Regions from separate parts of the Homo sapiens genome. Here region 1 is linked to region 2. A link means that fine-mapping ties the variant in region 2 to the expression of a gene that starts in the linked region. Tissue or cell type: whole blood. Region 2 holds a variant in brackets; the other region holds the start of a gene. All regions are shown on one strand. Distances are between the middles of the regions.

Evidence for each region. PIP is the estimated chance that this variant, and not a neighbour inherited with it, causes the effect.
Region 1: ADGRE3 starts here. The variant in region 2 is fine-mapped to the expression of ADGRE3 in whole blood (TOPMed, PIP above 0.99).

The regions. Positions count from the first base shown.
Region 1 is chr19:14,673,723-14,676,349 of GRCh38, forward strand. It overlaps ADGRE3 (adhesion G protein-coupled receptor E3), which reads right to left and starts at 1,122. Exons shown (of 16, transcript NM_032571.5): 1 at 1,024-1,122. The coding sequence starts at 1,048.
Region 2 is chr19:14,614,531-14,617,150 of GRCh38, forward strand. It overlaps a transcript of ADGRE3 not described here. Among named protein-coding and RNA genes, the nearest start is that of SNORA104, 6.4 kb to the right of the region's middle. The variant A/G (reference allele first, on the strand shown) is at 1,171.

The DNA of each region.
Region 1 (2,627 bases), 59 kb after region 2:
GGTTATCATTATTTTCTTTGTATAAATTTATGGGATACAAGTGTAATTTTGTTACACGCATAGATTTCATAGTGGTGAAGTCAGGGCTTTTAGAGTATCCACCATCCAAATGATGTACATTGTAACCATTAGGTAACTTCTTATTTTCCACTGTCCTTCTACTCCCTCAGCCTTCCCAGTCTTCATCGTCTATCATTCTACTCTCTATGTCCATGTGTCCACATTATTTAGCTCCCACTGATAAACAAGAACATGAGGCATTTGTCTTTTGGTGTTTGAGTTATTTCACTTAATATAATGACCTCTAAAATTAATAATAAAATTATCATTTATTTTCTTGTCACAGGAAAATGATAAAGGAGGGAGAAGAAAGAATAGCAAGAGAAAAAGGAAAAAAGTCAGGGCAGGGCTAGTTTGCAGAAGTTATCAAGAAGGAGAAGACATCAATTAGAAAACAAAACTTGCCAAGAGGAAGATGAACAACGTATTAGAGACCGGGTGCGGTGGCTCATGCCTGTAATCCTAGCACTTTGGCAGGCTGAGGCGGGTGGATCACCTGAGGTCAGGAGTTCGAGACCAGCCAGGGCAACATGGTGAAACCCCATCTCTACTAAAAATACAAAAATTAGCCAGGTGTGGTGATGTGTGCCTGTAATCCCAGCTACTCAGGAGGCTGAGGCAGGAGAATCACTTGAACCCGGGAGGCAGAGGTTTCAGTGAGTCAAGATTGCGCCACTGCACTCCAACCTGGGTGACAGAGTGAGATTCTGTCTCAAAAAACAAAACAAAACAAACAAACAAAACAAACAAAAAACCAAGCTACTAGATTGGATAGGAACATTTTAGGGATATTCGAGAGCATACTTTGAATAGGGTAGTCAGGAAGGAAACCACACTCCAAAGGGAAAAGGTGAGAGTGTTCAGAGCAGAAGAAAGAGGAGGAGAAAATAACCAATTGTTGAACCAAGTGGTCCCTGACTGGGGGATAGGTTAAGCCTCAGTCATTGTTACAGTCACACATACCTGGAAGAAGCAATGGTCCCTGCATTTCTGTGGTACGGGTATCCCACGCCAGCCAGCCCTGGAAGCTCTCTACTGTGCCGTAAGCCAACCACCTTTCCTAGCTCAAGAAATCCCATGAGAATTGAAGTATGTATCTTAGGTCAGCTGACTCATGAAATTGCTATCAGAAAAGCAAACTGCTTCCCCTCTTTCGCCATCAGACTCATGGTTCTGCTTTTCGTTTATTTGCTGTACCTTTTCTGCCTAGCTATTGTTGATCACCTTTGGGATGATTGAGTTGGTAAACCCTAACGAGGAAATGCCCTGAAAGTTACATCACATTGTCTGAGGATTAGGAAGTGCCTTTGGGGCCAAAATAAATCTTAAATAAGCCTGTGGCTTTGAGGTGAGTAAACCAGATTTTAGGGTGTCTGTGTTGGTATCTGAAGTTTCCAGAGGAGTCATTTTAACATATCTTTCTCTTCCCCCAGTAGATGATACTTACTGGTTATGATTGCTGAGCCATAAGAAGTTAAGAGTCCCAAAGTCTCATAGAAGGTAATACATTATTTGGTTATTTGGACCAACCCTAACCAGTCACAGGACTTGGGAGAAAAAGTCTGTAAATCTACCCTTCCTCCAGCAAATATTTATTTATTTATTTATGTGGGTCTTGCTCTGTTACCCAGGCTGGAGTGCCGTGGCACAATCATAGCTCACTGCAACCTCAAACTCCTGGGCTCCAGCGATCCTCCCACCTCAGTCCTCTGAATCGTTAGGACTACAGGTGCATGCCACCACGCCTGGCTAATTTTTTTTAGTTTTTATTTTTTTTTTTGAAGAGAGACAGGGCCTCGCTTTGTAGCCCAGGCTTGTCTTGAATTTCTGGGCTCAAGCAATCCTTCTGCCTCAGTCTCCCAGTGTTGAGATTACCGGTGTGAGCCACTGCACCCGGCTCCCCTGCTTAAAACTCTTCTGAAGCTCTTCATTAGACTTAAAACACCAGACTTCCTACTGAAGCAGTGTTGTTGTCTGGGGTTCATCCTCTCATGCCAAGTAAATCAAGGATGCGGATGCACAAGAAGTGAATTTAAGGCCGAGCACTGTGGCTCACCCTTGTAATCCCAGCACTTTGGGAGGCTGAGACGGGCGGATCACCTGAGGTCAGGAGTTCAAGACCAGCCAAGCCAACATGGTGAAACCCTGTCTGTACTAAAAATACAAAAATTAGCTGGGCATGGTGGCGCATGCCTGTAATCCCAGCTACTCGGAAGGCTGAAGCGGGAGAATTGTTTGAACCCGGGAGGCAGAGGTTGCCGTGAGCGAAGATTGCGCCAGTTCCTTCCAGCCTGGGTGACAGAGTGAGACTTCATCTAAAAAAAAAAAAAAAAAAGTGAGTTTCAGAGCAGAAGTTTAACAGGCAAGAGAAGAGAAAAAAGAGAAAAGCTCTATCCTGCAGAGAGAGAGGGGCTCCCAAGTGAGTCTTCTGGTCTCGTGGTGAAATACATGGGGTTTTATAGCCGAGCTTGAGGAGGAGCTGTCTGATTTACACAGGAACCGAGAGATTGGTCGGACTGGGTGTGCTGTTTGCATAGCACGCAAAGAAGCTGGCCGCCCCATCCTCA
Region 2 (2,620 bases):
AATCTTCACCATGACTTTGTGAGGTTGGAATATTTACCAACGCCCGCCAATCTTTTTTTTTTTTTGGGCAGAGTCTCACTCTGTCTCCCAGGCTGGAGTGCAGTGGTGTGATCTCGGCTCACTGCAACCTTTGCCTCCTGGGTTCAAGCCATTCTTCTGCCTCTGCCTCCCAAGTAGTTGGGATTACAGGTACACCGTAATGCCCAGTGAATTTTTTCGTATTTTTACTAGAGATGGGGTTTTGCCATGTTGGCCAGGCTGGTCTCAAACCCCTGGCTTCAAGTGATCTGCCTGCCTTAGCCTCCCAACGTGCTGCGTGCTGGGATTATAGGTGTGAGCCACTGTGCCCGGCCCCCATTTTTTTTTTTTTTTAAAGACAGGGTCTCACTCTGTCACCCAGGCTGAAGTGCAGTGGTGCAATCACAGCTCATTGTGGCCTCAACCTCCTGGGCTCAAGTGATCCTCCCACCTCAGCCTCCCAAGTAGCTGTGGCTATAGGTGTGTGCCACTACACCTGGCTAACCAACCCCATTTTATACCTGGGCAAACTGAGGCCCAGAGGTGGGGTCTCACGGCTTGTCCATTGTCATTTAGTGGGTAAATGGCAGAACTGGGATTCAGATTCCATCTGTGCCTCCCACTGTTTGTTGATCTCTTTCTACAGCTGCCTTCTTTTTTTTTTTTTTTTTTTTTTTGAGATGGAGTCTCACTCTGTTGCCCAGGCTGGAGTGCAGTGGTGTGATCTTGGCTCACTGCAACTTCCATCTCCCACCCCAGCTCCCTCGTTCCTCGGGAGAGGTGACTCTGAGATGCATGTTCCACATTATCTCCTGAAAGTCCCCACTAGGGTAAAGCTCCACCTGCCTAGAGAGATAGCCTGCTCAACTAACACATTTTTGGTTAATTTTTAAAATTAAAAAAAATTTTTTTTAGAGAGACAGCATCTCTGGCCAGGTGTGGTGGCTCACGCCTGTAATCCCAGCACTTTGGGAGGCCGAGGCAGGTGGATCGCTTGAGGCCATGAGTTCGAGACCAGCCTGGGCAACATGTTGAAACCCCATCTCTACTAAAAAATACAAAAATTAGCCGGGCGTGGTGGTGCGTGCCTGTAATCCCAGCTACTCAGGAGGCTGAGGCAGGAGATTTGCTTGAACCCGGGAGGCGAAAGTT[A/G]CAGTGAGCTGAGATTATGCCACTGCACTCCAGCCTGGGCAACAGAGAGACTCTGCTAAAAAAAAAAAAAAATTAGAGAGACAGGTTCTCGCTGTGTTGCCCAACCTAGAGTGCAGTGGTGCAATCATAGCTCACTGCAACATTGAACTCCTGGGTTCAAGCAATCCTCCCGCCTTCGCCTCCAGAGTATCTGAGACTACAGGTGTGTGCCACTGCTCCCAGCAATAACACATCTTTTAACACATCTTGTTCTTTCTCTGCCTTACTTTTTTTTTTTTTTTTAACAGAGTCTTGCTCTGTCGCCCACTGTAACCTCCGCCTCCCAGGTTCAAGTGATTCTTCTGCCTCAGCCTCCCGAGTAGCTGGGACTACAGGCCTATGCCACCACACCCGGCTAATTTTTGTATTTTTAGTAGAGACGGGGTGTCACCATATTGGCCAGGCTGGTCTTGAACTCCTGACCTCTGCCCTTGTGATCTCCTCGTGATCTCCACGTGAACTCCTCGTGATCTGCCCATCTCGGCCTTCCAAAGTGCTAGGATTACAGGTGTGAGCCACCGTGCCCAGCCCTGCCTCATTTCTTCACACCCCGTTGGTGTTTCCTGGGATCATCTCCAAAATAATCTACCTGCATGCATTAAACTCCTTATCTCAGAGTTTGCTTTTGGGAGAACTCAAATGATGATGCTATGGGATGAGTGTCATCATCAAAGATGAGTTTGTGAAATGGTTCTGGTTTGCCTGGGACTGAGGGACTCCTGGATTGTGGGACTTTTGGTACTAAACCTGGGAAAGTCCCGGGTAAACCAGAATGAATTGACTATCCTTATAGGAGGATAGTGTGGCATCAGGGAAGCCAAGAGAAGAGAATGCTTCAAGAAGAAAAAAAATGATCAACAGAGTCAAATGTTGACCCAGCGGTCAAGTTTGGTAAGACTGAGAAACAACCAGTGGACTTTGCACCGAGGAAGCATTTGGGACATTGGTTCATCCTTTGGTGTGTTGCAAGCAGAAGTTAGATTGCAGTGGTTGAACAGTGAGGAGGTTGGAGCAAGTGAAGACAACACAGTGGAAACAAGCTTTTTTCTAGAATTTTTTTTTTTTTTTTTTTGAGATGGAATTTCGCTCTTGTTGCCCAGTCTGGAGTGCAGTGGCGCAATCTCGGCTCACCGCAACCTCCATCTCCCGGGTTCAAGTGATTCTCCTGCCTCAGCCTCCTGAGTAGCTGGGGATTACAGACATGCGCCACCACGCCTGGCTAATTTCGTATTTTTAGTAGAGAGGGTGTTTCTCCATGTTGGTCAGGCTGGTCTCGAACTCCTGACCTCAGGTGAACCACCCGCCTTGGCCTCCCAAAGTGCTGGGATTATAGGTGTGAGCCACCACACCCCACCTTTTTTTCTAGAATTTTGGCTGTGAAGAGGAGGAGAGATAGAGTGGCTATTGCAGA